Regions from separate parts of the Homo sapiens genome. Here regions 1 and 3 are each linked to region 2. Evidence: fine-mapped expression QTL. A gene starts in region 2. Each other region holds a variant in brackets. All regions are shown on one strand. Distances are from middle to middle. Region 1 overlaps LINC03036 (long intergenic non-protein coding RNA 3036). Region 2 holds the start of DENND10 (DENN domain containing 10). Region 3 holds the start of EIF3A (eukaryotic translation initiation factor 3 subunit A).

Evidence for each region. PIP is the estimated chance that this variant, and not a neighbour inherited with it, causes the effect.
Region 1: its variant is fine-mapped to the expression of DENND10 in whole blood (TOPMed, PIP above 0.99).
Region 3: its variant is fine-mapped to the expression of DENND10 in whole blood (INTERVAL, PIP above 0.99).

What each region holds. Positions count from the first base shown.
Region 1 is chr10:119,016,799-119,027,143 of GRCh38, reverse strand. LINC03036 (long intergenic non-protein coding RNA 3036) reads left to right here. Exons shown (of 4, transcript NR_186540.1): 2 at 1,284-1,347. Among named protein-coding and RNA genes, the nearest start is that of LINC03036, 7.6 kb to the left of the region's middle. RefSeq lists enhancers at 1,793-2,366, 3,552-4,194, 4,195-4,837. The variant G/C (reference allele first, on the strand shown) is at 5,164.
Region 2 is chr10:119,097,951-119,108,295 of GRCh38, reverse strand. DENND10 (DENN domain containing 10) reads right to left here and starts at 4,183. Exons shown (of 9, transcript NM_207009.4): 1 at 4,099-4,183; 2 at 132-328. The coding sequence starts at 4,153. RefSeq lists an enhancer at 1,974-2,473 and a silencer at 3,615-4,394.
Region 3 is chr10:119,073,405-119,083,749 of GRCh38, reverse strand. EIF3A (eukaryotic translation initiation factor 3 subunit A) reads left to right here and starts at 2,933. Exons shown (of 22, transcript NM_003750.4): 1 at 2,933-3,122; 2 at 9,813-10,003; 3 at 10,173-10,309. The coding sequence starts at 3,074. RefSeq lists enhancers at 2,719-3,013, 2,441-3,203 and a silencer at 3,209-3,468. The variant C/A (reference allele first, on the strand shown) is at 6,114.

The DNA of each region.
Region 1 (10,345 bases), 81 kb after region 2:
CTAAGACTCTGGTCCTGTTACTCCCGGCCGGGTGGCCTTCTCACTACACCCTGGACCAGCAAGGTATCTCAGACAATAAGTCTGTGCATGCATCCGCAGAACTCTAAGGCACAACACAGGGGAAGCTGGAAAGAAGTGAGGTGAGGTGAGGCGATATGGCCTTGGCTGGGGCCCCTGCCCTCAAAGAGCAATCCAGGGCTCTGGCTGGCAGGCGCGGGAAAGGACCTGAAGCAGTGAAGTGAGGCCTGTTCTGGCCGCCTCTCTGGGTTAGGGGTTAAAGATCCATGTTTCGGCCTCTTCCTTCTAGCCCCCGATGGTTGATGTAAGTCATGAAACCAGGCAGTAATATTCAGCACTTGCCAACCCAGATCCTTTTCCAAGTTTGTGTTGGCATGCAAGGTAGAAAGTCATTCCTTTATTTCCTCCCCTTCTCCACCAAAAATAAATAAAAGAACCTCCATGCCGCAGGGCTCCTGCAGACGCCTGGCAGGTTTGCTGACCCTGAACTCGGAGCTTTTACCACGAGAACGCCAGCCCCCCAGAGTGGTATGAAGATGATTATTCTATGAATGGAAAATTCCGCTCGGTTCACACAGCCCTGCAGCCTGCATCCTTTCAAGACATGCAGACTTTTCAAGCTCTGAAGATGGGGAGCCACAGTTCTGAGAATAACTTTGGCAGGAAAAGTTTAAAATTGCCAGCTGCTGTGTCTGATCCCCCTTGGTCAGGCCAGAGAGGCGATGGCACAGAAGCGGAAGCCTTCTTGCCTCCCAACATGGTTTTCGGCCCTTGTGGTTGTACGGGGAGAATAAAAACTTTTAAGGGATAAGAATAGGAACAAACACCTTGGCTGGGACCTGCAGCCTGGGTATGTGGGAAGTGGAGCTGGGATGGAGATGCCCCAGAAGGAGGTGGAGAAATGAGTGTGTCTTGGGGTCCGCCATGGGCTGTTTCCCCAGGCTGCTCCCCTTGACTGCTATACGAGGTGAGTAGACATTTGACCCAGAAGGGAAGTCGGGAAGTGGAGGCCAAGTGCATGAAGGCTTTTGTCGTGGAGCACACGCTGGGCCTCAGTACCCTGGGAGCCTTTGCTCTCAGTGACCATAGAAAGGCCAGTGTGGGCACCTGGCCCAGCTCTGGGTTAAATAAACAGTGACTTTTGTCACCCAGCAACAGGCCTCAGCCTGGCTGTGAGCTCTCTAGCTCTTTGAGGTGTTGGCACGATTTCAGAGATGTTCTTAGCACCTCTGATGAAGTCTCACTGCCTTTTGCTCACTTTCCAGGAGTCTGGAATGAAACAGATGGAAACAGCCAGTCTGTGAACGTTTCTTCAGGTATCCGGCAGAGGTGAGAAGACAGGTGGGCATGGGCTACACCTCAGAAGTTAGAGGGTGCTGCTTGGTTTCTTCTGGAGTGGGGCAGTGGGGCCTGCCTGGCACAGGCTGAGGGCTCTGGCAGGGCAGGGGTGGGTGGTGGGGAGGGTGCCTGGGTTCTGTGCTCCCACCTCTCCACATGGCCCCCAGCCCGGGCCATTTCCTTTGCTGGCAGCAGAACTGAACCCTGTGAGGCAGCTCACAGACCTCAGGCTCCTGAGGCTCTTCAGAAACATGAGGTCAGCCCTGGGGAATGAGGCAGCTTGGCCGGGGTCCAGGCGGCTATAGCGATGCTGTTTGTCAGGTTCTGGGTTCCCGCTGACCCCCTGCCAGGACTTTGCCAGGGACAGGAGGTGCTTTGGCTCCGTCAGCCATGGGCCTGGAGGTGGGTGAGGTGCATTTGGGCACGAGGAGCCCTCTCCTGGCTGACTTTGTCCACATCATGGCTCTGTCAAGCTCAGAGAGTCCTGGGATGGGGCTCCTGCCCTTTGGGGGGCTTGGGCTTAGGGTCTGCTGTTGTGGAGAAGCCATATGGTGAAGTGGGGAGAGCTTACTGGGCCTCGGGACAGGGTTTGCACCCTGGCGCTGGTGCAAAGTCACGTGTAGTGGACAAGGGGCTTAACCTCTCTGGGCCCCAGATGCTGCTTTTGGTCAGTGAAGGGCTCTTGTCGAGTAAAATGGCAGCCACTCCCCCTCCTTGCAGACTTAACTTTGTTCTGATTCCTTCCCTCAGCCTCGGGGCATAACTGTGACAGGTTTAAGCAGAAACATCCCATTTCCCCTAGTCACCACTGGGTAAGGGGAGGGCTGGTGACCCATTCTCACCCTGGAGATCTCAGCGGACATCTGCTGTCTGCTGGGAGGATACTGGGAAGGGGTTTGCTTCCTTATATAAAAAGGGGGAAGAAATAAAGAACCAGGGCCCTCACCTTCTTCAGCTCAGGCTATAGAGCTGAGGTGATAAGGCTTAAGGACACAAAGCTGGCGCAAGGTGATGGCTTACCAGAAAAGTTAAAACAAAAAACAAACCTTAGTGATATTTTTGTTGATGACTTGGTGACTTGTTACACGAGATAATTATAACATCTCTATTATTTCAGCCACTTCAAGTCAGGTATCCTTTTATTTATTTATTTATTTGAAACAGTGTCTCACTCTGTCACCCAGGCTGGAGTGCAGTGGCATGATCTCGGCTCACTGCAACCTCCACCTCCCAGGTTCAAGCGATTCTGGTGCCCCAGCCTCCCGAGTGGCTGGGATTACAGGCATGCACCACGATGCCCAGCTAATTTTTGTATTTTTAGTAGAGACAGGGTTTCACCATGTTAGCCAGGCTGGTCTTGAACTCCTGACCTCAGGTGATCCACCTGCCTTGGCCTCCCAAAGTGCTGGGATTACAGACGTGAGCCACCACACCACGTCCAGGTATCCTTTTATACGTGCAGTTGACTTCATTCTTAATCAAGCTTGTCCAACCTGTGGCCAGGTGGCCTCATGTGGCCCAGGACAGCTTTGAATGCGGCCCAATACAAATTTGTAAACTTTCTTAAAACATTATGAGATTATGCACAGACCTTTTTTAATTAAGCCCTTCAGCTGTCATTAGTGTGTTTTATGTGTGGTCCAAGACAGTTCTTCCATTGCGGTCCAGGGAAGCCAAAACATTGGACACCCTTGTTCTAAATGAAACATGTAATACTGTGAAAAAAAATACATTTGGTTATTCTGTCGAAAAGGTAGGCTACCATATTCTGGCCAGGTGGAGGTGACGACCATGTCAGAATTCTCTGTGTGTGGACAAGGCTGGAAGGGGATGCGGAGAATGGGAAACGGGTGCCGTGGTGTCATCTCACACCCCCTGCCTTGGGCTAAAGTCTCCCAGCTGGTAATAATACCACCACCATCAGCACCAGGTGCTTGACATGCACTATTCCATGTGCCCCCCACCCCCAACCCTGCCCCGCAAGGCAGGTGCGCTGGTGACCTGTTGGAGACGGGGGCAAAGCTCAGCATGGAGCCCAAGGCTGAGAAGCTCAGGAGCAGCAGGACTGAGATTTGCACCCATTTTTCTCTCACTCCCCGAACCTGGGTTTGTGCCTCCTTGGATGCACCCGGTCATTCTTGGGACTTCTGGGGTCCAGATGTGCGGGAGACTGGCCAGCAACACACAGCGGCAGGGGCAGGAGAGGACACATTCCAGTCCGTGTCAGCAATGTCCCCTGAACAAAACCAACCCCATTTAAAAGCAGTCTGGGTGTTTCTGTTTATCCAGTAGTGGGTACTTTGGTAAAGTGAGTAATCCTTTCTCCCTCCAGCACTTGCCCTCCTCCCTGCCATGTGGTTTTCTTTTAGAAATCTGGAGTGTCCCAATTTTGTTTAAAGCAGGAGCTGCCTGGAGGCTGACAGGCGGAAGGGCAGATGTCCCTGGGCTGATGATGCTGATAATAGCAATAACAGTAGCTCACAGGTGCTGAGCCCTTACCGTGCACTAAGCATTCACTCATATCATTTCTGAAATCCTCCCAGCAGGCCTACAATGATAAGCATTTCACAAAAGGGAAAATGAGGTTTTGGGAGGCTAAAAGCATGCCCAGCAGCTCACAGCTAGCTGGTAGGTGGCATTTCTTCAAGGCCCGCACTGTTAACCCTCACACCTCCTTGATCATCCCCTGGCCCGTGGATACTCATTCATTTGGAATTCACTACATCCGGCCTCCCCACCTCCTCCTGTGCTTCCCTAAATGGGGCCATCAGCCTTCTCTCACCCGTCGTCAATCCCTGCTGTCTGCAGGGGGAGGGAAGTAAAAAGCTGACAGGAAGGAGTTACATGTAAAATGGTAACCTGTAGATTGAGACTGTTCTCCAACAGGTCTGAGGGCTCTAGGCAGAGGGAGGGGAAGCGGGGATATGAGGGCTGTGGAAAGGATGGGACCAGACTGCCAAGCAAAGAATGCTATGTGTGGTTCTGCAGGTTGTGTACAGTTCTGCAGGTTGTGTACTGCACAACCGCTTCCCATCTAAGGGGGCACCTTTACTTCATAGACATAGTAACTCTGTGATCATTTTCTGGCCGACCTTGAGTAAAGTATCTTCTAACGAAATCAGTATATTATGACACTTCACTGACAGATGGAAAAAGATACCTTGTGGAAGAAGTGTCTTTTCCTAATTTGCTCAAAGCCCAAAGCTTTGGCTCTGGCCGAGGTGTGAAATGCTGAGCTTCTTGAAGGCGGGCCTCAAGTTTGACATTAGTACCCCTTTTCTTGTTTCCCCATTCTGAAGCTTCAGGTGGAGAGTCTCCTGAATTCAGCTGATCAGGTGCTGGGCACAGTTCTGCCCTGGTTGTTACTGGTGGATCAGCTGCCCCTTGGGACTAACATTTAACTTTATTTTTGAGACAGTCTTGCTCTGTCGCCCAGGCTGGAATGCAGTGGCACGAGCTTGGCTCACTGCAACCTCTGCCTCCTGGGTTCAAGCGATTCTTCTGTCTCAGCCTCCTGAGTAGCTGGGACTACAGGCATGCACCACCACGCCTGGCTAATTTTCATATTTTTAGTAGAGATGGGGTTTTGCCATGTTGCTCAGGTTGGTCTAGAACTCCTGGGCTCAAGCAGTCCGCCCGCCTCACCCTCCCAAAGTGCTGGGATTACAGGCGTGAGCCACCTCGCTGGGCCGGGACTAACATTTTAAAGATTGCTCAAGTCATTTTAGCCATCTTCTTCTGGTCTTATCTGATTTGCACTGATCCTCTCCCAGCCGTCCTGAGTTCTCCAGGGATTTTGTGTGCTCG[G/C]AGCTGCCTCTCCACAGTTGTGTCTGTCTTCAGGCTTCTACGGCTTAGTGACCAGAAGGCAGGTGGGCCCCAGGGAGCGGATGGAGGATCCAAGCTCTGTATAAATTGAGTAGCCTCGAGCAAAATCAGTTCCTGTCTCTGGATCTTAGTTTTAAATTTCAGTTTAAAATAATTGGGCTGGCCTAAGTGATTTCTTGGCCCTTTCCATCTCTAAAATTCATTTATTTACCATCAAGGTCTGGGGATAAGTGGCAAATAAGACTGACGTACTTCTGACCTCATGGAGCTTACACTCGAATTGGGCAGACAGACAAGTAAACAGGCGATGACACTTGGTGGGGGCAGGTTCGCTTCCTGTTGCGGTTGTAACAAATTACCACCCATATAGTGGCTGAAAACAACACACTGATTTTCTCAGCGCTCTAGATGTCAGAAGTCCACAGTGGGTCTCACTGGGCTGAATTCCCTCTGGAGGCTCTTGGCGGGGAACCTGTTTCCTTACCTTTCCCAGCGTCTGGAGGCTGCCTGCCATTCCTGTGGTTCGTGGCCTTTCCCTTCTCAAAACCCAGGGATAGCAGGTAGCTGAGTCCTTTCCACGTGGCACCTCTTTGTTCTTTCTTCTGTCTCCCTCCTCCACCTTCCAGGACCCTGGTGGTCCCACTGGGTTCACTGGGATAATGCAGAATGTGCAGAATGATCTCCCAATTCTAACATCTTTTTTTGTTTGTTTTTGAGACAGAGTCTCGCTCCATCACCCAGGCTGGAGTGCAGTGGTGCAATGTCGGCTCACTGCAACCTCTGCCTCCCATATTCAAGCGATTCTCTTGCCTCAGCCTTCCGAGTAGCTGGAATTACAGGTGCGTGCCACCATGCCCAGCTAATTTTTGTATTTTTAGTAGAGACAGGGTTTTGCCATGTTGGCCAGGCTGGTCTCAAACTCCTGGCCTCAAGTGATCCACCTGCCTCGGCCTCCCAAAGTGCTGGGATTACATGTGTGAGCCACTGCGCCAGGCCCCTATTCTAACATCATTTAATTAGCAACCTTAATTCCACCTGGAACCTCAGTTCTCCTTGGCCATGTCAGGTAACAGATCCACAGGTTGTAGGAATTAATATGCCTTTTGGGGTCATTATTCAGCTTACCACGGGGAAAGTGCAGAGGGCTGTGAACTCCCTGGCAACAGCACCCCACCCACACACGGGTGTGTCATGACTCCCAAGACCTTGGCATAGCCAGAGTGCAGCTGGGCTGGGGAGGTCAGGTTTCCTCTGTCAGTTGGGACCTGACACAGTACAGGGGAAGCTGTGAGGTGAGGGAGCACTACACAAAGTGTGTGTGTGTGTGTGTGTGTGTGTCCCTCAGGCAGATGGAAAGTGATTGCAGAGGAAGGGTCTGAGTTGCAAAGAGGATTAGTGAGCAAAGAAAGGCATACTTGTGTGGGAGACTCAACATACTTAAAATATTAGGTTGGTGCAAAAGTAATTGCGGTTTTAACTCTTTAATGGCAAAAACCACAATTACTTTTGCACCAAACTAATAATAATGATGTTATTTAATTTGTCATTAAAACAAAAAAAGAGCCAAGTGCAACAAAAATACCCAGCAATAATAGAACAAGCATCAGGAGTGAGAGACTGGAGTGAAGTGCTCCAAAACCCTTATATTGTTCAAGGAGAGGGGAAAGATACTAACTTTAATATTTTATAACCTATGGGAAATTTCAAGAATTACAGAAGTAAAGATCATAGCATAATGCATCTTTTTTTTTTTTTTTTTTTTTTGGAGACAGAGTCTTGCTTTGTCGCCCAGGCTGGAGTGCAGTGGCGCAATCTCGGCTCACTGCAAGCTCCGCCTCCCGGGTTCACGCCATTCTCCTGCCTCAGCCTGCCGAGTAGCTGGGACTACAGGCGCCTGCCACCGCGCCCGGCTAATTTTTTGTATTTTTAGTAGAGACGGGGTTTCACCGTGTTAGCCAGGATGGTCTCGATCTCCTGACCTTGTGATCTGCCCACCTTGGCCTCCCAAAGTACTGGGATTACAGGCGTGAGCCACCACACCCGGCCAGCATAATGAATCTTAACCCAGTTTACCCTTAATAACTGGCTACTCTTATTTTTAACTATCTCCACACCTGTTTTTTTTTTTCCCTATCTCCTATACTATGGATTATTTTGGAGAAAATCTTGACTATCAATATTAATTAAATTTAGATTTTGAGAGGTTAAGCATGTAAGTTAACATTTTTAGGGAACCAATTTGGAAAAAAAGAGAAAGGAAATAGAGGGTATAACTTTCTTTCTTTTCTTTTTTTTTTTAGACAGGGTCTTGCTCTGTCACCCAGGCTGGAGTGCAGTGGCATGATCACAACTCACTGCAATCTCAACCTTCCCAGCTCAGGTGATTCTCCCACCTCAGCTTCCCAAGTAGCTGGGACTAGAGGTGCACAACACCATGCCCGGCTAATTTTTGTGTGTTCTGTAGAGACAGGGTTTCACCATGTTACCCAGGCTGGTCTTCAACTCGGGGGCTCAAGTGATCCACCCTCCTTGGCATCCCAAAGTGCTGGGATTATAGCTTTCAAAATAATAGATGTAAAGAAATGGAATGAGGAAAGGATAATAATTACAAAAGAAAGCATGACAGAGGGAAAAATAATCACATAAATGGTAGAACAAATTGGAAGTACACAATAAGATGGTTGAAGTACGTCCAAACATATAATTACTGTAATAAATGTAAATGGACTAAATGTTTTTATTAAAACACAAAGATTTCAGACTGGATTTAAAAATCTGCTATATGTCCTCCATAAGAAACTCTAATGAAACATAAGGATACAGAAAGGTGAAAGGTGAAAGGATGCAAGAAGTCATGGGAGGAGACACCACCAAGGAACAGCTGATGTTGCTGTGCCAACAGCCAACAAAATGGACCTATGGCTATGTAATGTGAAAGGTTCAGTTTACCAGGAGGCTATAACAGTTCCAAGGTAATATATACTTAATAATTTAACTTCAAAGTATAAATAAAAAAACTGATAGAATTGCAAGGAGAAATAGGAGAAATAGACAAATCTACATTAGTGGGAGATGTGACAACTCTCTCGTAGGTAAAATAGACAATATTATTAAGGATATAGAATATATTTAGTAATATTGAATAATGATATGTATATAATTATATATACATATAAATATACAAACACTGCCTTGAATAACTGCAGAATTTACATTCTTTTCAAGCACTCAGAGCATTCATAAAAGTTGACTGGGGCCAGGTGTGGTGGTGCATGCCTGAAATACTAGCTATGTGGGAGGATCACCAGATCCCAGGAGTCTGAGACCAGCTTGTGCAACCTAGTGAGACCCCCATCTCTTAAAAAAGAAAGTTGATGGGATTCTGTGCCATCAACCAGGTATTAACAAATTTCACAGGATTGGTGTCACATAGGATTCTCTGGTCACAAGTCCATTTCATTAGAAATCAACAATGGAAGAAACTAGAAAAGGATACAATACAGAGAAGTGAAGGAATTAGTGAAATAGAAAAGAAAAGATATGATAAATGATTGACAAAGCCAAAAAGTTGATTTTTTTCTTCTTCTTCTTCTTTTTTTTTTTTTTTTGTAGAGGCAAGGTCTCACCATGTTGCCCAGGCTGGTCTCAAGTCATCCACCTGCCTCGGCCTCCCAAAGTGCGGAGATTACAGGCATGAACCACTGTGCCCAGCCTAAAAAAGTTGATTCTTATAAAAGACTAATAACATTAACAAATATTTAGCAAGATTTATTAAGAATAAAAGGCATGACAAACAATTCCATGACTATAGATACTTCCTCAATTTTAAGATGTGGCTGAGCGCAGTGGCTCATGCCTGTAATCCCAGCACTTTGGGAGGCCGAGGCAGGTGGATCACTTGAGGCCAGGAGTTCGAGACCAGCCTGGCCAACATGGCAAAGTGCCATCTCTACTAAAAATACAGAAATTAGCCGGGTGTGGTTGTGGGCGCCTGTAATCCCAGCTACTCGGGAGGCTGAGATAGGAGACTTATTTGAACCTGGGAGGCGGAGGTTGCAGTGAGCTGAGATTGCACCACTGCACTCCAGCTTGGGTGACAGAGTGAGACTCTGTCTCAGAAAAAAGAAAAAAAAAGTTAAAAATATATATGAAATGGGCAATCTGCTAGAAAAGTAAAACTCAGTAATTTAAAAACCTCAGTAATCCTGTAACCAGTTAATAAATTTAATCAGAGTTAAAAATTTCCTCACAAAGAAAACACTAGATCCAGATGACTTTGAAGATAAATTCTGCTACTAAAAAACCAAATAATTCCAATTCTACACCAAACTTTTATAGGAAAAAGATCATTTTCTAATTCATTTTATGAGGCTAGTATAAAGCACAAGAAGTATAAGAAAAGAAAATTACAAACCAAACTCACTCATGAACATATGTGTAAAAATCTGAAACACAATATTAAACCAAATTAGTAATGAAAAATATTTAATTAATCAGGTCTAAGATGAATTTACCTCTGGAATGGAATCTTGGTTTAACATTAGAAGTCAATTAATGTGAGGCCAAACTCAGTGGCTCATGCCTGCAATCCCAGCACTTTGGGAGGCTGAGGTGGGTGGATCACTTGAGCTCAGGAGTTCAAGACCATCCTGGGCAACATAATGAAACCCCGTCTCTACTAAAAATACAAAAATTAGCCAGATGTGGTGGTGCAGGTCTGTAGTCCCATAGTCTCCGCTGCTTGGTACAAGAATCACTTGAACCTGGGAGAGGGAGGTTACAGTGACCCGAGATCATGCCATTGCACTCAAGCCTGGGTGACAGAGCGAGACTCTGTCTTGAAAAAAAAAAAAAAAAAAAAGTCAATGTAATTCACCACATTCATATATTAAAGAAAAATATGATTACCTTGGTAGATACAGAAAACACATTTGATATAATTCAACATACAGTTATGATTAAGACTCTTGGAAAACTAGAAAAAGAAGGGAGTTTCTTTAATTGATACAGCGTATCTACAAACCTTGTAGCAAATATATTTAACACCTCTAATCATCGTGTTCCTGGAGGTCTCACAGGTCCTAGCTACTGTAGTATGGCAGAAGAAATAATTAACATTAAGCGAATCAGGAAGGAAGAAATGAAACTGCATAAGATCATATGT
Region 2 (10,345 bases):
GGCCAGGATGGTCTGAATCTCTTGACCTTGTGATCTGCCGACCTCAGCCTCCCAAAGTGCTGGGATTACAGGCATGAGCCACCGCGCCCAGCCTATTTTGGGGTTTTTTTTTTACCTTCACGCAATCATACCTTTTTCAAAATGGAAGAATCTGGAACTTCAATTGTTGTGATATAAAACCATGTTCTTCTGTACTGACCAAAGACAAAGGGATGGAGAAGTTTGTTTTCATCTGTAAGGCAGCATTTTCTCAGCAGCAGGTTCCTTAATGTGGCTGTCGTGGAAGGATAACACCACACCCACAGAACTTCTCCATTTGTGTCCTTTTCTACGGTGGAAAGATGGTCACTGTGAGAATGTCAAACAGCAGCAAGGAAGTGAATTGATTGGTTACTCAGAAACACTTAGTGGAATCAGTTTTAACATCCCATCTTACAAAGCAACTCACAATACCTGACACCCCAAATTCCCACCTATCTCTACTGCTCAAATTATCTAGCTGTCATGATCCTGAATTACAGGCCACCTGAGTAAAAAGTTTTTATAACAAACCATGAATGAAAATTCAGCCTTAGAGATATGGTAGAGTTTTGGCCGGGCACGATGGCTCATGCTTGTAATCCCATCACTTTGGGAGGCCAAGGCGAGTGGATTACCTGAGGTCGGGACTTCGAGACCAGCCTGACCAACCTGGAGAAACCCCATCTCTACTAATAATACAAAAATTATCCGGGTGTGGTGGGGCATGCCTGTAATCCCAGCTACTCAGGAGGCTAAGGCAAGAGAATTGCTTGAACCCGGGAGGCAGAGGTTGCAGTCAGCCAAGATCACGCCACTGCACTCTAGCCTGGGCAACAGAGCAAAACTTGGTCTCAAAAAAAAAAAAAAAGACAAAGAAAGATGTTAGAGTTTCTCCCTATCTCCTCCCACACAAATGCTTATCAACTAAAATTACATTAAGTTTTTAACTAGTTGGAATAATTCTTTTTTTTTTTTTTGAGGCGGAGTCTCACCGTCACCCAGGCTAGAGTGTACTGGTGCTATCTTGGCTCCCAGGTTCAAACGATTCTTCTGCCTTGGCCTCCCAAGTAGCTGGGATTACAGGTGCCCACCACCATGCCCAGCTAATTTTTGTAGTTTTAGTAGAGACAGGGTTTCGCCATGTTAGCCAGGCTGGTCTTGAACTCCTGACCTCAGGTGATCTGCCCGCCTCGGCCTCCCAAAGTGCTGGGCGGAATAATTCTTTAAATGGAGTTTTGCTCTTATTGCCCAGGCTGGAGTGCAATGCAGTGATCTCAGCTCACCACAACCTCCATCTCCCAGATTCAAGCTATTCTCCTGCTTCAGCCTCCCGAGTGGCTGGGGTTACAGGCATGCACCACCACTCCTGGCTAATTTTGTATTTTTAGTAAAGATGGGGTTTTGGTTTCTCCACATTGGTCAGGCTGGTCTCGAACTCCCCACCTCAGATGATCTGCCTGCCTCGGCCCCCCAAAGTGCTGGGATTATAGGCGTGAGCCACCGTGCCCAGCCGAATAATTTTTAATAAATACATAGAAAAGGTTTGTCGAAAACAAAACCAGAGATGAAGAAAATAGTGAAATATTTCAAACCATGTTGCATACCAACTGTGTGAATTTTGTATTTAAAATTGTTTAGGCCAAGCATAATGGCTCATGCCTATAATCCTAACACTTTGGGAACCCAGGAGGATCGCCTGAGGCCAGAAGTTCCAGACCAACCTGGGCCACATAGTGAGACCGCATCTCTACAAAAAAAAAATTTTAATTAGCTGGACATGGTGGTGTGTGCCTATGGTCCCAGCTACTCAGGAAGCTAAGGTGGGAGGATCAAGTTAGCCCAAGATTCAGAGGTTGTCGTGAGCTATGCACCACTGCATTCCAGCCTAGTCAACAGAGAGAGACCCTGTCTCTAAAGACTACAAATAAAAAATTGTTATTGAAAACAGAATTACCATTCCACCCAGTAATCCCATTACTGGGTATCTGCCGAAAGGAAAAGAAATCATTATACTAAAAAAGACACTCACATTCTGTTTTTTTTTCTCTCTCTGAGACAGGGTCTAACTCTGTCACTTGGGCTGCAGTGCGGTGGCGCAATCTCAGCTCACTGCAACCTCCACCTCTGATCTCAGCTCACTGCAACTTCCACCTCCCGGGTTCAAGTGATTCTCCTGCCTCAGCCTCCTAAGTAGCTGAGATTACAGGTGTGCACCACCACGCCCAGTTAATTTTTTGCCTTTTTAGTGAAGACAGGGTCTCGCTATATTGGCCAGGCTGATCAACTCCCAGCCTCAATTGATCCACCTGCCTCAGCCTCCCAAAGTGCTAGGATTACAGGCATGAGCCACCACGCCTGGCCTCTTTTTTCAATTTCTTTTTTTGAGACGGGGTTGGGGGGGGTCTCACTCTGTCACCCATGCTGGAGTACAGTGGCATGATCTCAGTTCACTGCAACCTCTGCCTCCTGGGACCAAGCAATCCTCCCACCTACAGGCACACCACACCCGGCTAATTTTTGTATTTTTTGTAGAGACACGAGGGTTTTACCACATTGCCCAGGCTGGCTGCAAACCCCTTTTAAATGCACGTTAGTGTGAATAATTAAAAAACTGCTGAGTTCAAAATATGATCATATGTCATCTTTTTATTTGCTATTAGTAGATAAAGACAGTTTAACTTAGCCTTAGTTCAAAAGTACCTTCTGGAGAAACTAAGTTACTTAGGTTTTGTTTTGAAGCAGTTTGAAAATCACATTAGAAATAAATACAGTAATCCACCTGGACAACATGTCGGTATCCCATCTCCACAAAAAATACAAAAATTAATCGGGTGGTGGTGCACGCCTGAGGTCCCAGCTACTCGGAGGCCGAGGCGGGAGGATGGTTTGGGCCTGGGAGGTGGAGGCTGCAGAGAGCGATGATTGCGCTACTGCACTCCAGCCTGGATAAGAGGGAGACCCCGTCTAAAAAAAAAAAAAAGAAGAAAGACAAAGAAATAAAAACAGTAAGCGATTCCCACATAAACGCACTGCTTTGAGGCACTGAAAAATAATCAGCATATTTCTTCAGTTTTGCTAAAGCCTAAGCAATGTTATTGCGCACTTGGGGAATAGAAAGAGTTTAGGGGTGTGCAAAAATCTCGGGAAAATAAAACTTTTTCGAAGGGAACCAACGGGTTCCATCCCCTAAATACTGCACGAGGCTGCCCAAAGATCCCCGTGTGATATTTTTTAATTATGGAAGATAATTACATTCCTCAGAGCTAACCGAGATTCCACCACACAGGATTGTGTAGAAACTCCTGCTTTATTTATGCACAAGCTCGATCACATGATGCAGGAGCTCTCCACTGGTGGGGGTTGGGGGCTCTGGGATACACTGCGAGGGTCCCACTCCCGGCTCTGTACGGCCTATGGTGTGTCCGTGCACAATGACGGCCTGGGCCTCCATTTGCTCCTCCGTGAAGTGGGCGTCAGACGTTTCCCACGGCCCCTCGGTCCTTGGTGAGAGCTAAAAGGAGACAATGTGTGTACAACGCGCAGCACCCGGCCCAGCAGTCTCCAGCTGCCCGGTCCCACGATGGGGGCCGCCCGGGCGGGCAGTCACCCGTGGCTCCGAGGCAGCCGCCCGCCCCCGGCTCGGGGGAACCGGACCCTGCCTCCTCCCCGCCGCGCCGCGCCGCGCCGCCAGCCGGCTGCTCCCGCCCGGCCCGGCCCCGCCCGCGCAGCGCCCCTCGCAGCTGCCCAGCCTGGGAGCGCTCGACGTCCCGGCTCCGCCGGGCAACCCGGGGCGTGCAGGGGGAGCTCCACCCCGGAATCTTGGAGGTCCCCGGGCTCCCTCGGGCCGGGCAGGCCCCACAGGCGGCCGCGGGCGGGCGGGCGAGGGCGGCGGGCCGGGTCCCCTGCACCAAGGAGGCCGGGCTCCGCAGTCCCCAGTCCAGGCCCAACAGGGAGGGGGCCGCGCCCTCCTCATGCGGTCGGCGCCGGGGGCCGCGGGAGCCCGGGCTGCCCCGGGCCGAGGTGGAGCAGAGGCAGAACCAGGGTGCGGGCTTCCAGGCAGGGCGCCTACGTCCTCACCGATCAGCCCGACTCCAAGCATCAGCTGAGTGTCCGCCACCTCGGCCGCAGCCATCTTCCGCCGCCGCGGCGCGCAGCTCTGGCTGCCGCCTGCAGGACCGGCCTCGCACCCGAACCCCGCCCCGCCCGCCGTAGGGCCCGCCCCCATCACAGGCCCCGCCTCCCTCCCCGGCCCATCATAAGCCCCGCCTCCCTCCCCGGACCATCACAGGCCCCGCCTCCCGCTGTAGGACCCGCCTCCCTCCCGCCCCGCCCCATCACAGGACCATCAACCCCCCCCGTCGGCCCCGCCCCACCCGCAGGCCCACCTATTCCAGCCCCAGTCCTCCCTGCCAGGACCTGCTCAGTGCAGCTCCACTCGTCTTCTGCCCGTGGCCCTTCGCCCTTGGAAACCTCCTTGAGTCTCCGCAGCCTGCCTCAATTTCTCTAATCCAGCTGTTCATCCTTCTTCTTCTCAATCCACTCCAATCTTTCTTCCCGTCGTAGGCTTTCCTTGTTCTACCTCTGCCCTCTGGTCAAGCTCAAAAGAACAGGTCACCTTGTTCCTAAAAAGAGGCGTCCTGAGGATGGAGGAAGGGTCTCCATCCATTCCTTCATCCAGCCACCCCCAAAACAAAACAAAACAAAAATTGAGGGCCTAATAAGGCACTGGGGATACCTTATAGGGCTGAACAAGACAGAGCAGTCCACTGGGGAAGACAGACAATTGGCGAGTAGAATAAATAATCCAGGCCAGGTGAGGTGGCTCACGCCTCTGATCCCAACACGATGGGAGGCCAAGGCAGGAGCATCACTTGAGGTCAGGAGTTCGAGATCAGCCTTGGCAACATAGTGAGACCCATCTCTACAAAAAAAATTTAAAAATTAGCCAGGCATAGTGGCATGCACCTGTAGTCCCAGCTACTCTCAGGCTGAGGCAGGAAAATCATTTGAGCCCAGGATTTTGAGGCTGCAGTGAGCTGTGATCCTGCCACTCACTCCAGCCTGGGTGACAGAGTGAGACCCTGTCTCAAAAATAAATAAATAGATAAATAGATGACAGATAGATAGATAATAGTAAAAAAGCTCAGAATGATATGTGCCCTGGAGGCAACGATATGTGCCCTGGAGGCAGTGTGTTAGAGAGTGGAGGTGTGCTGCTCTAAAATGGGTGTCAAGAAAGGCTTCTCTGAGAAAGGGATATTTGAACTGAGATCTGAATGATAGTAACGACTCAGACATTGGAAGATTTGGCTCCAAGATTCCTCCTCTGGATCTACTGTCTGCCCCAACCCCAAGTCACACAGAGCTAATTAGGGAGGGTCCTTGGTGTCTGCAGGAATACAATCCCACCCTCATCTTTTTTTCTTTTTTCTTTTTTTTTTTTTTTTTTTGAGATGGAGTCTTGTTCAGTTGCCCGGCCTGGAGTGCAATAGCGCGATCTCGGCTCACTGCAACCTCCGCCTCTCGGTTTTAAGGGATTCTCCTGCCTCAGCCTCCTGCGTAGCTGGGATTACAGGCGTGAGCCACTGCGCCTGTTTTTTTCTTTTTTCTTTCTTTTTTTTTTGGAGACAGTTTCTCGCTATGTTGCCCAGGCTGCAATTTATACATTGGAGTATATTTAGGTGTGTATATGGCATTCCTGTTTCTCTCACTAAACTGAACCCCTGGAAGGCAGCACCCTGAACTACGTGCCCTTCTATTCTCTGGGCTTCCTGTTGTAGTATAACTGTTAATGTGTCTAGTTTTCACAGAAAAGAAGCAGGTGTTTAGAGGCTGAGGAGTGGGACACAGATGTGGAATCAGTTTGGAAGCCAACTAGAAACTTGCACTAGGTGGGGCACGGTGGCTCACGCCTGTAATCCTAGCACTTTGGGAGGCTGAGGTGGGTGGATCACGAGGTCAGGAGATTGAGACCAACCCGGCTAAAACGGTGAAACCCTGTCTCTACTAAAAATACAAAAAATTAGCCGGGCGTGGTGGCAGGTGCCTGTAGTCCCAGCTACTTGTGAGGCTGAGGCAGGAGAATGGCGTGAACCCGGGAGGCGGAGCTTGCAGTGAGCCGAGATCACGCCACTGCACTCCAGCCTGGGCGACAGAGCGAGACTCCATCTCAAAAACAAACAAACAAAAAATCACAAAAATTAGCTAGGCATGGTGGCAGGTGCCTGTAATCCCAGCTACTCAGGAAGCTGAGGCAGACTGGCTTGAACCCAAGAGAGGACGGTTGCAGTGAGCCAAGATCGCGCCACTGCATTCCAGCCTGGGCGACAGAGTGAGACTCCATCTCAGAAAAAAAAAGAAAAGAAATGAGGATGAAGACGATGATGAACAGATAATTAAACAAAGGAGAGGGAGATGATAGTGGGTGCAGGGAGGGGAAAGATAATGAGGGGTGTGTCCAGGCTCCAGTGAGTGGGATGATACCTGGAATTGACACCTCCTTCCCTCCTGTTTCTCCACAAGTGCTGTCTTACCTGCCAGACAGGTACACCAGAGTGAAGGGAAAAGGAATAGAGGGTGGAGAGAGCAGAGGCGACGCATCCCCAATCTTTAAAAGTAAGACTGACCTCTGCGCTGTCACAGACAGATGGAGCTGGGGTGTGGAAACAGACAACCTGAGTTCCAACCCCCTTGCCCATCTTAGCTGCGAAACCTCACACATGTTTCCTATCTTTTCTGTGCATGTTTTCTCAGTGATCAAATGGAGCTAACCATACTTTCCTCCGTGACTCTCCCAATAAAGATTTGAATCAGGGAAAATCTTTATGCTAGTTTTATTGATAAGAATAGCCTAATTTTATAGGTAAGAATATAAAGGGTCCCCAAGACCACCCCCCAAATTCAATGATTTGTTGGAAGGATTCTCAGGATTCAGCATATAGCTATACTCATGGCTATGATATACATTTTTATTTTTTTGAGACAGGGTCTCACTCTGTCACCCAGGCTGGAGTGCAGTGGCACGATCACGGCTCACTGCAGCTTTGATCCAGGCTCAAGCTATCCTCCCACCTCATCCTCCTGAGTAGCTGGGACTACAGGCAGGCACCACCATGCCTAGCTATTTTTTTTTTTTTTTTTTTGAGATGTGATCTCACCATATTGTGTAGGCTGATCTCAAGCTTCTGACCTCAAGCGATCTGCCCACCTCAGGCTCCAAAGTGCTGGGGTTACACATGTGAACCACCATCCCCAGCTCAGGGCTATGATTTATTACAGCCAGAGAATACAAAGCAAAATCAGCAAAGGGAAAAGGCACATGGGGTGATGTCTGGAGGAAACCAGGGCCAAGTTCCCAAGAGTTATTTCCTGGTAGAGTCACACAGGACACACCTAATTCCTCCAGCAACAAGTTGTGGCAATACTTGTGATATTTATCAACCAGGGAAGCTTGTTAGAACTCAGTCACCAAGTAACTCAGTTTTTACTGGGGGCCAGTCACATAGGTACCCTCTGCCTAGCTCATACCAGATTTCCAGACTCTCATGAACCACATTGTATGTACAAATAGTTCAGGCATAGTCTGTCACTCTGATCAGTTTGATCAGTTCTAGAAATGCTGGGAACACTGCCGAAGTCCAAGTTTCCAGGCACAGCCAAGGGCCAAACTGGCCAGCAGACTTTCTATGGATATCACCCTCAGGCCTGTCGTGTGAATTCTTTTTTGCACAGCCTGCTCACTCCTTGCTCTGCAGAAAAAGAGTAAGTTACTGGCACTGAAGCAGATTTGGAAAGTGCCTAAACTGTCTGGCCACATGGACAAGTGCACAAGGGACCCCAGCATCTTCCAGGTGTTCCAATCCCAGGTTCCTATGAGTCAAATATGGTTCTTTTTCATCTTTGTTTCTGTAATTGGATTCCATCATAGATTGGGCATGTGTCAGCCAAGGGAGCCATTAGGGTGGCAGTTTTTTTTTGTTGTTGTTGTTTTGTTTGTTTGTTTGTTTTGATGGAGTCTTGCTCTGTCGCAATGCAGTGATGCAATCTCAGCTCACTGCAACTTCCGCCTCCTGGGTTCAAGCAATTCTCCTGTCTCAGCCTCCTGAGTAGCTGGGACTACAGGCGCAGGCCACCACACCCGGCTAATTTTTGTATTTTTAGTAGAGACAGGGTTTCACCATATTGGTCAGACTGGTCTCGAACTCCTGACCTCAGGTGATCCACCCACCTCAGCCTCCCAAAGTGCTGGGATTACAGGTGTGAGCTACTGTGCCCAGCCTTTTTTTTTTTCTGAGACGGAGTCTTGCTCTGTCACCCAGGCTGGAGTGCAGTGGTGTGATCTCCACTAACTGCAACCTCCGCCTCCCAGGCTCAAGCAATTCTCCTGCCTCAGCCTCCCAAGTAGCTGGGACTACAGGTGTGTGCCACCAAGCCTGGTTAATTTTTTTTTATTTTTAGTAGAGATGGGGTTTCACCATGTTGGCCAGGCTAGTCTGAAACTCTTGGCCTCAAGTGATCCATCCGCCTTGGCCTCCCAAAGTGCTGGGATTACAGGTGTGATCCACCACGCCTGGCCAAGCTCTTTTAATTTAAGGGATTCAGTCTCACTTGGGAACTGGAAGGCGATTCAGTCAACTGCTCTGACACTCCGTCCTGACTTCTAGCATATGTGAGGCTTCCAGAACATTCCCAAGATGAAGTCATCCTCCTTGTGTTCTCAATGGTTTCAGGATGCTGGGTAGCTCTCCGGCCCTAAGAAGCCCAGGTTTCGAGCTGTGTTGCATTATTCTTTTTTCTTTCTTTCTTTCTATTTATTTATTCATTTATCTATTGAGACAGGGTCTTGCTCTGTCACCCAAGCTGGGGTGCAGTCGTTCAATCACAGCTTGCTGCAGACTTGACCTTCCAGGCTCAAGCAATTCTCCCACCTCAGCCTCCCGAGTAGCTGGGACCATAGGTTTGTGCCACCATGCCCAGCAATTTTTTAAAACTTTTTGTAGAGATGGGGTCTCCTTATGTTGCCCAGTATGGCCTTGAACTCCTAGGCTCAGGCAATCCTCCTGCATCAGCCTCCAGAGTAGCTGGGACTATAGGCATGAGCCACGATGCCCGGCTAATTTTTATTTTTATTTTTATTTTATTTTTGTAGAGATGGGAGTCTCACTATGTTGCCCAGGCTGGTTTTGAACTCCTGGCCTTAAGACATCCTCCCACCTCAGCCTCCCAAAGTGCTGGGCTTACAGGTGTGAGCCATCACACCTGGCTACTATGTTGCATTAAAAGAAATAGTTCATGGACTGGGCACCGAGGCTCATTCCTGTAGTCCCAGCATTTTGGGAAGCTGAGGCAAAAGCATCGAGCCCAGGAGTTCAAGAGCAGCCTGGGCAACATAGCAAGACCCTGTCTCTAGAACAAAAATTTAAAAATTAGGTGGGCTTGGAGATACACACCTGAACCTATCTACTCAGGAGGCTGAGGTGGGAGGATCACTTGAGTCCAAGAGTCACTGGTTGCCATGAGCTACAATTGAGCCACTGCACTCCAGCCTGTGTGACAGAGCAAAACCCAGTCTCTAAAAAAACCAGTCTCTAAAAAAAAGAATAATACATAGTTCAGCAAGAAAAATGTAATTAAAATAATTCTGATCTTTCTTTGCGTTTTCCAAAAAACATTAAAGAGGACAGAATTTATTACCTACAGTGAAATGTCTTAAAATCCCTTTCCCCTCAGATTTTTAAAAATAAAACTTTTAGGCTAGGGGTGGTGGCTCATGCCTGTAATTCCAGCACTTTGGGAGGCCAAGGCAGGCAGGTCACCTGAGGTCAGGAGTTCGAGACCAGCCTGGCCAACATGGTAAAACCCCATCTCTACTAAAAATACAAAAATTAGCTAGGTGTGGTGGCAGGTGCCTATAATCCCAGCGACTTGGGAAGCTGAGACAGGAGAATCCCTTGAACCCAGGAGGCAGAAGTTGCAATGAGCCGAGATCACACCATTGCACTCCAGCCTCGGCAACAAGAGTGAAACTCTACCTCAAAAAAAATAATAATAATAATAGGCCTAGGCCAGGCACGGTGGCTCACACCTGTAATCCCAGCACTTTGGGAGGCTGAGGCGGGTGGATTGCCTGAGCTCAGGAGTTCAAGACCAGCCTGGGCAACACGGTGAAACCCCGTCTCTACTAAAATACAAAAAATTAGCCGGGCATGGCAGCGTACACCTATAATCCCAGCTACTTGAGAGGCTGAGTCAGTAGAATCGCTTGAACCTGGGAAGTGGAGGTTGCAGTAAGCCGAGATTGTGCCACTACACTCCAGCCTGGGTG
Region 3 (10,345 bases), 25 kb after region 2:
CCCAAGTAGCTGGGACTACAGGGGCCTGCCACCACAATCGGCTAATTTTTGTATTTTCAGTAGAGACAGGGTTTCACCATATTGGCCAGGCTGGTCTCAAACTCCTGACCTTGTGATCCGCCTGCCTTGGCCTCCCAAAGTGCTGGGGTTACAGGCGTGAGCCACTGCGCCCCACCTATCTCCCAAGTTTCTAGTGTTTGTGTTGTTGTAGGCATACCAAATAATGAGTAATAACGAATGAGGCCATTTTACTATTTTTTTTTTTTTGAGATGGAGTCTCGCTCTGTTGCCCAGGCTGGAGTGCAGTGGCACAATCTTGGCTCATGCAACCTCCACCTCCAGGGTTCAAGTGATTCTCCTGCCTTGGCCTCCCAAGGAGCTGGGATTATGGGCACGTGCCACCATGCCCAGCTAATTTTTGTATTTTTAGTTTCACCATGTTGGCCAAGCTGGTCTCGAACTCCTGACTTTGTGATTCGCCCGCCTCGGCTTCCCAAAGTGTTGGATTACAGGCGTGAGCCATCATGCCGGCCCATTTTACTATTTTCTTTGAGAAATGATAACGTAAAGTTATGAATGTCAGCAAGCTTTTTTTCTGATTTTTTAGGTCAACTTTATTTTGTTTGCATCTCTAAATAGTTCTCTGTCTACATCTCGTAAAAGAAGTATGTGCTCATATGTTTCACTCTTTAATTTTGACTTAATTATTAGATACACAAACAAGTCTCTTGATCCTGCCCATAAAACAGTTCCTATAGCTTCTCAGTACTTGTTTTTATATCAACCCTGCCCAGCTCTTATTTTTTTGTTGAGTAAGCTCAGACACATAGAATGGTCTAAGCGTTCTGGAGGATGAGCTCTCTGAAATTAATTTTAAAATAAACTTCTTTAGAATTTGTGATTTTTTGGGTCCATGTCTATACTTCCCAAATCTTCTTTCTTTATAGTGATCAATTTAGATAAATAGAAAAACCTCTCCTGTAGTAGAACAGTTCATGTTGAAAAATAAAAAAACAAAACAAAACCATCTTTGTGGAGGCAGAAGTAATGAGGGGGAAATGCTTTTTGTGTGTATATCCTGTGGTTTTCTCATTCTTTTTTTTTTTTTTTCTTTTTTTGAGACGGAGTCTCCCTCTGTCGCCCAGGCTGGAGTGCAGTGGCCTGATCTTGGCTCACTGCAACTTTTGCCTCCCGGGTTCAAGCGATTCTCCTGTCTCAGCCTCCCGAGTAGCTGGGATTACAGGCGCCCACCACAGCGCCCGGCTAATTTTTTTTTTTTTTGAGACGGAGTCTCGCCCTGTCACCCAGGCTGGAGCGCAGTGGCACGATCTAGGCTCACTGCAACCTCTGCCTCCCGGGTTCAAGCGATTCTCCTGTCTCAGCCTCCCGAGTAGCTGGGATTACAGGCGTTCGCCACCACGTCCAGCTAATTTTTTGTAACTTTAGTAGAGACGGGGGGGGGGGTTTCACCACTTTGGTCAGGCTGGTCTCGAACTCCTGACCTCGTGATCCGCCCGCCTCGGCCTCCCAAAGCGCCTGGATTACAGGCGTGAGCCACCACGCCAGGCCTAAGTTTTGTATTTTTAGTAGAGACGGGGTTTCGCCATGTTGGCCAAGCTGGTCTCGAACTCCTGACCTCAGGTGATCCACCCGCCCCAGCCACCCAAAGTGCTGGGATTACAGGCGCGACCCACCATGCCCGGCCGATTTCCTCATTCATTAATTCACATATCTCGTCTATTAAATGTGTAATACATTGACAATAATCTATTTCACTGCTGCCTTCTAAATTTTCCTTCTGGGCTGGGCGCGGTGGCTCACGCCTGTAATCCCAGCACTTTGGGAGGCCGAGGAGGGCGGATCACGAGGTCAGGAGATCGAGACCACGGCGAAACCCCGTCTCTACTAAAAATACAAAACATTAGCTGGGCGCAGTGGCGGGCGCCTGTAGTCCCAGCTACTCGGGAGGCTGAGGCAGGAGAATGGCGTGAATCCAGAAGGCGGAGCTTGCAGTGAGCCGAGATCGTGCCACTGCACTCCAGCCTGGGCGACAAAGCGAGACTCCGTTTCAAAAAAAAAAAAAATTTTTTTCCTTCTGAGCTCACCTTTATTTCGTACCAAGGGCTTGAGAATTAGATTCGGTTCAAATGGTTTTCAAATTCTAGGTAAAGTACTTCGTCTGCGAACATTAAAATTGTTAAGCAACAATAAAAGGGCCTCTCAGATTGATTTTTTTCACTAACACTAATTTTTCTTAATTTGTTTGTGACGTGCGCTGTATGTAAAAAGTGACGACACTCCTTTCCGTGTGTTTTCAAACACCAAGCAAGTCTGCTGTGCTCCAGGGCGTTTCGCCCTTTGCCAGGTCGCTGTCCCCATTCGCCCCCTCTGAGAGCCTCCATTTCTCAAGGCAATCCCTGTGACACAAACTTTTTACTTTACCAAGATATAAAAGAACCTTGCTTGTTTATTTTAGGCGTCACTCTTCCCCATGATTGTCTCTCACGGTTGAGCGGCGCTGACCTGATGACACCTGCTCACTGCGTTTTCGTTAAACTCAGCATTTTCACGTAGCCAAGACAGGCGATTCCCAGGCTGGATGGGACCTTACTGTAACTGCACGACTCCGCACAAGTCGCTTTGAAAACCAATCTGCAGACGTTTGCTTGTTCTCCAGACAGAAACTCTGACCCCACACTCACCCTTCCCACCCTAATTCTCGCTCGAAGATTGAAGAGCCTGTGAACTGTCTCCCTAACGCTATCCAGGACAGGCCCAAGACGGGAACTGGACCTTGCGCGCCTAGGACTCCGGCGCCGCCACGTCTGTCGGCGTGCGTGACGCCAGCGCGCTTGCGCGCACGGAGACCCGCCCCCTACATCCGGGGCCTGGGCGGCAGCAGGGCCGCCGCGGGGAGGTCACGTGGCTCCTTCCTTTCCGTCTCTGGCCGGCTGGGCGCGGGCGACTGCTGGCGAGGCGCGTGGGACCTTACGCTGGTTCCCCTTCGTCTCCTCTCCCGGCCCGGGCCACTAGAGAGTTCGCTGACGCCGGGTGAGCTGAGCCTGCCGCCAAGATGCCGGCCTATTTTCAGAGGCCGGAAAATGCCCTCAAACGCGCCAACGGTGAGTAGCTGATCGGGGCGCGCCGGGCTGGGGCGGCCCGAGGCCTCCGAGGTCGAGAGCGCGGGCCTGCTTCCCACTGCTCCGCCGCCCGGCCCGCGCGGGGAGAGGAGACCGATGCGGCCTGCCCGCCGCTGTCCCAGCCGGTGGTTGGGCATGGGTTTCCTTCTCACTCTATCGACTGGGGTCTGGGAGGCGCGTAGCCCGGAACCGTCGCCCCAGGGGCCTTTCCTTCCCCCTGCCGCCTCCGGGTGCGTCGCGGGGACCGCAGCCCGGGAGACAGCCCCTACCCGGACTGGAGCTCCCTCCTTGCTGCCTGCGTCCTCTGGCTCTCCAGGTCCCTGGGGCTTTGGTCTGCTTAGGGCCCGCGTCCCCGGCCGCCATCTGGGAGTGCCGGGGAGTAAGAAACATGGCTCCCTCCCGGGGACAATGCACGCGAGAGCCTCGGCTCCACCTCCTGCCCGGGCCGGGAGCCCTACGGACCCACCCCCGGCCTTCCCGCAGCCACCCCCGCTCTCCAAGCCGCGCTCAGTGCTTTGCTGGGTCGGCGTCCACTTACCCTTTACCCAGCTGCTTTATATCCACTTAGGGGCCTCTGACCCATTTAACCTGATTCCTGTTGTTTTGTTTTGTTTTTGTTTTTTCATTTTTCCTGGCATTGATTAGAAGCAGTCCTAAAGCCTGTTTCGAATCACTGGAAGTTGGAATAGAGTTAATGTAAAGGGACTTCAGGTCGCCTCTTAAAGATAACGAAACAGGCCTAGAGAGAGGTTTCCCCAAGGTCACTCCGGGAGTTGTTGAGCCAAGAGACTTAAAACCAACGTCTCTTGACATCCAGATCAGTCCTTTTTTCTCTTTTTTTCTGCCACAGTGCTGCTGTCTGCGATTTCTATTTCTATATGTGTACTTCAGCCATTGGCGCTTGAGGGAAAAACTTGTGTGCCCCGATCTCTCCAAGGCATTTATTACATTGGCGTTCTGGGGATGCACATGTTCTTGGCTAGGCTCTGGGCTTAAGAAACTTTGTGTAGGGTTTTTTTTTTCCCCTCTAACCGGACAATTTTTCTAATCGTTAGGGCATGGATAGCTCTTATTTTCATCCTTCCTTCACCGAAATAGAAGTTTCGGGTTTTACCCATGTTGTAGATGAATATACCTTGTGAGTTACAGTTTTATGTTTGGAGAGCTTATTTTGTTAGCTTCTTTGAAAATTCATCTTATGAAAATGGCAGTTTGAGTCAGCACATAAACTGATAATTTGGCAGAACCAGAGATATGTTGGTCATATACTTTTTAAAGTAAAAGTAACACTTTTTGTCGGGGAGGGAACTGGTCTGTGGAATAGGATAATTCCACATTGTGTGGAATGGAGTAATTGTTTTAAAAACCTATTGAAACTACAACATAGATGTGAGCACTAATTCATTCTAATGATAACCAGTGATCTAATGGTTAGAACAGACAAGCAGTTTTAGGATGTTTATTAATACATCGGAAAGAAGAGATTGAAATGGAACTTTGTCACTATAAACCAAACTGTAGCAAAGTTTATGACTTTTCGTCGTTTCGAAAGTTAGAATTTGTAGTATACAAAATGATTTGCATGAAATTACTACTCTGCATGGCTGTTGTCGATGTTTTACAGTCATTTGCATGCTTTGCCCAACAGGTATTTTTTTTTCCCCGTGCTAGTAGGCCAAAGCATTATAATGGCCTACATATTATATATTTGGTGTGTTCGGGTCTTGTTTCCTTTATCGCTTCTCTTTTTGGAACCTTCATAAGAACTTCATATAGAAAAGATATGTAATGTGCATCAAACATTTTTTTCCTGTTTCTAAATTGACACAGGCTTGATTCATGAAGGGCAGGTTAAGGAAAGGATCTGAAATTAAAGTAGGCAAGATGAGGGACACTGGGGGGGAAACTTGAGTTTTGTTTGTGTAGCTTTTTAAAAAAGACTGTGGTCCCTTGCAGCCCTTTGAAGCTGTTGGATGGGGATGCATGCGTTCCCTTCAGAGTAGAAACTCATACCTTTGGATTGTGAGGGATCCCTTCTCAAAGTGAGCAGATCGTGGATGGTCCAGGGCACTGCTTCCAAAACATAAGTGAAGGATCAAAGGGCATTCCCCTAATTGGAAATAATCTCATTTTATCTAAATGTTTTACATGTAATATTTGTGATCCTAACAATATTTAGACCTAATTTATTGCATTGTCTTAATAAAATGTAAATAAATTTAAGTAGAATAGTCGTTCAGGTCACCCTAAGCATATATATGAGCAATTTTTGGGGGAAAAATTATAGTAGTCATTCAGGAAGGTGAGAACTTGGACCAGCAGTTACAGGCAAGAATTTCGTATCCTGTAATCATTTGGAGAAGGCCCCTTTTTCATATTATATCATTAGTGGTGCCACACTAACTGCTGCTGACCTTATTATAGTTTATGTTCTACAACCAGTGCCTTTGAAAAATAAAGCTATTAAGGCCACAAATTGAGTAACATAGCATATCCATTTGGTCTGTTGCACAAATAAACTAGCAAACATCAAGGGCTGATGTAAACTTCTTTATACATACTTTCAGTAATGAATTTGAAAGGTATGCTCCAAATGCTCACCCATCCAGTAAGGTTTATAATTCTAGATTTTAATTTTTATTTCTATAATATTAATCTGGAAGTCAATATTTAAGTATTGAAATAGAACCTTTAGTTTATCATAGTTCTTTCCAGTCTCAAAAGCTTCCCCCGGCCACTATTAAATAATTCAGAGGAGGCCGGGCGTGGTGGCTCATGCCTGTAATCCCAGCACTTTGGGAGGCCGAAGCGGGTGGATCACAAGGTCAGGAGATCAAGACCATCCTCACTAACACAGTGAAACCGTCTCTAGTAAAAATACAAAAATATTAGCCTGGTGTGGTGGCGGGCACCTGTAGTCCCAGCTACTCAGGAAGCTGAGGCAGGAGAATGGCATGAACCCAGGAGGTGGAG[C/A]TTGCAGTGAGCTGAGATTGCGCCACTGCACTCCAGCGTGGGTGACAGAGCGAGACTCCTTCTCCAAAAAAAAAAAAAAATTCGGAGGAACTAAATTCTTGTATATAAATTAGGACAAAGGCAGAAGACTCACTGTCATGGATTATGAAAAATCTGTTCCCATTCCAACTATTTATTTATTTATTTGAGACAGAATCTCTCTCTGTTGGCCAGGCTGGAGTGCAGTGGCACTATCTCGGCCCACTGCAACCTCCGCCTCCCAGGCTCAAGCGATTCTCCTGCCTCAGCCTCCCAAGTAGCTGGGATTACAGGTGTGTCCCACCATGCCCAGCTAATTTTTTAATTTTTTTCACCATATTTCCCAGGCTGATCTTGAACCCTTGGCCTCAAGTGATCTGCTCGCCTTAGCCTCCCAAAGTGCTGGGATTACAGGCGTGAGCCACCGCGCCTGGCTAAGGAATCAACTTCTAATTGGCTGTTCAGGAAGTGAAAAATGGTTTCAGTTCCATCTTTAAGCAAGCCCTTTTTAGATTAGGAGTTGGATACAATAGGTCATTTTAGTGCTGCTGCTGTGATTTTCTTAAAGTATAAATTCCATTAAACGCATTTACTCCCAAGTTTTTTGCTGATAAGAGACTGTTTTTGTTAGTTATGAAGAACGCCTAATGTACTGTTACATTTTCTTTTTTTTTTTTTTTTGAGACAGAGTCTCTCCCTCTATTGCCCAGGCTGGAGTGCAGTGACGCAATCTTGGCTCACTGCAACCTCCGCCTCCTGGGTTCAAGTGATTCTAAAGTCTCAGCCTCCCGAGTATTTGGGATTACAGGCATGCACCACCATGCCTGGCTAATTTTTGTGTTTTTAGTGGAGACAAGGTTTCACCATGTTGCCCAGGCTGATCTGGAACTCCTGACCGCAAGTGATGCCTTGGCCTCCCAGAGGGCTAGGATTATAGGTGTGAGCCAAGGCGCCTGGCTGTACTGTTACATTTTAGAAAATAACCTTACATGCACTATATAGGAGAAGACCAGGAGAAGACTGCAAGTTTTTTCCCTCCCACCCCCACCCCTGACAACAAGGAAAGGCTTATTTCAACAAAATATCTAGTTATATATTACATCTTTGTTTCATTTAGTAAGTTTTTTTTTTGATAGTAAGATGGAGTCAGCGAAAGATGGACTTTTTCATGCAGTGGTGAAGGGTTTTGTCATTATTTGCATGTGAAAAATGTGATTTCATATAAGGTATTGTACAAAGATTTATTTCAGTATGTTTTGTGATTTATCCTGTAGCAAACTTTTTTTTTTTTTTTTTGGAGACTTGTTGCCCAGGCTGGAGTACAGTGGCGCTATCTCGGCTCACCGCAACCTCCGCCTCCTGAATTCAAGTAATTGTCTTGCCTCAGCCTCCCAAGTAGCTAGGATTACGGGCGTGCATCACCATGGCCCAGCTAATTTTTTGTATTTTTAGTAGAGACGAGGTTTCACCGTGTTAGCCAGGATGGTCTCGATCTCCTGACCTCGTGATCCACCCGCCTCCCAAAGTGCTGTGATTATGGCGTGAGCTACTGCGCCCGGCCATTATCAGATAGCTCTTAAAAGAAAAAGTATTGGCTGGGTGCGGTGGCTCACGCCTGTATCCCCAGCACTTTGGGAGGCCGAGGTGGGCAGATCACGAGGTCAGGAGATTGAGACCATCCTGGCTAACACGGTGAAACCCCGCCTCTACTAAAAATACAAAAAAAAAAAAAAAAAAAATTAGCCAGGCGTGGTGGCGAGCTCCGTAGTCCCAGCGACTCAGGAGGCTGAGGCAGGAGAATGACGTGAACCCGGGAGGCGGAGCTTGCAGTGAGCTGAGATTGCACCACTGCACTCCAGCCTGAGTGACAGAGCAAGACTCTGTCCAAAAAAAAAAAAAAAAAAAAAGTCTTTTTCCAAGGAAAATAAACAATGATATTTTTAAAAAGGAGATATATATATATATATGTATATATATAGTGTTTTAAGCTCCCCCCCTTTTTTTTTTTAGTGTAGTGTTTTAGTTCCCCCAAATTATTTTTTAAATGTTCATTGGGAAGTTTGTGTGTGTGTGAAATTTGCAATTAATGAATGTTAAGATGAATTTAACCAGTTGACTTAGGTTAAATAACCTCTTTCTCCCCCAGTCTATTAAGTGTACAAAAGAAAATAAAAGATGAGGAAATTTAAGATAAATTTTAACCTTGGTCAGAAATAATGTAATGGCAAAGGTATTGCTTTTGACTGTATTTCAAAACAAACAATATGCATAAAACTTAAAATTGGAACTGGGTTTTGAAATGTTACCACATAGAATGCCTTCGGGCTCAGGGGATAATAAATTCAAAAGAATATAAGTTGTCTGGGCATGGTGACCCATGCCTGTAATCCCAGCACTTTGGGAGGCCAAGGCGGGTGGATCATGAGGTCAGGAGTTCGAGACCAGCCTGGCCAAGATGGTGATACCCTGTCTGTACTAAACATACAAAAATTAGCCGGGCCCTGTGGTGGGTGCCTGTAATCCCAGCTACTCAGGAGGCTGAGGCAGGAGAATCGGTTGCGGTGAGCTGAGATGACGCCAGTGTACTCCAGCCTGGGCGACACAGCGAGATTCCATGTCAAAAAAAAAAAAAAAGAAAAAAAATAAGTTATTTTGCTTTGTATTCCATTTTTTTCCCTTTTTTTTTTTTTTTTTTTTTTTGAGTTGGAGTTTCGTTCTTGTTGCCCGGGCCGGAGTGCAGTGGCGCCATCTCAGCTGACCGCAACCTCTGCCTCCCAGGTTCATGTAATTCCCCTGCCTCAGCCTCCGCAGGCATGCACCACTACGCCCTGCTAATTTTGTATTTTTAGTAGAGACTTGGTTTCTCCATTTTGGTTAGGCTGGTCTTGAACTCCCAACCTCAAGTGATCTGCCCTCCTCGTCCTCCCAAAGTGTTGGGATTACAGGCATAAGCCACCGCTCCCGGCCCCATTTTTCTATTTTTTTATTTAAAAAAAAAAAGAATTTTTTAGAGCAGTTTGAGATTTCCAGAGTGTTGCAAAGAGAGTGCATAGTTTCATTGACACCACACCCACTTTCTCCCATGTTGATTTTTATTGGTAACAACTAATGAACCAATACCGACACATTATTTATTTTATTTTTTTTTTTTGAGACACGGAATTTCGCTCTTGTCACCCAGGCTGGAGTGCAATGGTGCGATCTCGGCTCACTGCAACCTCCGCCTCCTGGGTTCAAGTGATTCTCCTGCCTCAGCCTCCTCAGTAGCTGGCACTACAGGCACATACCACCACGCCTGGCTAATTTTTGTATTTTTGGTAGGGATGGGTTTCACCGTATTGGCCAGGCTGGTCTCCAGCTCTAGACCTCAAGTGATTGGCCCACCTCGGCCTCTCAAATTGCTAGGATTACAGGCATGAGCCACTGCGCCCGGCCTGGAACTTTTAAATCACAGTGGAATACAGTGATTCAGTTTTACTTGTAGATCATATTTCAACACAGTACAGGTCTTTCTGTTGTTTTACTTTTGATAATTATGGCATAGCTTTAGAAGTCAAAAATAAATGTAACTTGGTAAAAAGTTGGTAATGAGTTGGGGAATTGAAATAGCTGTTTAAAAAGGTAAAGTTTAGACTCTTGTATAGTGTACATAACTAATTTTAATTCTTCTGAATTTTTCAGAATTTCTTGAGGTTGGCAAAAAGCAGCCTGCTCTGGATGTTCTTTATGATGTTATGAAAAGTAAAAAACATAGAACATGGCAAAAGATACACGAACCAATTATGTTGAAATACTTGGAACTTTGCGTGGATCTTCGCAAGAGCCACTTGGCAAAGGAGGGGTTATACCAGTATAAGAACATTTGTCAACAGGTACAAACGGAACTGGGTTGTATATTTTTAACAAGTGTTTTTAGTAATCTGCCGAAGAACTTACCTTTCGAAGTGAATATATTGTATTTCTCTTAAAAATTTGCCTTTAAAACATCTTATGGTTCAATGGAAAAATAAGTTCTGAAGAGTTTTTGTTTTTTTGGATTAGGTGAACATAAAATCTCTGGAGGATGTTGTTAGGGCATATTTGAAAATGGCAGAGGAAAAAACTGAAGCTGCTAAAGAAGAATCTCAGCAGATGGTCTTAGATATAGAGGATCTAGATAATATTCAAACTCCTGAGAGGTATGTGGGTTAGACCTCTAATAAATGCTTTGATAG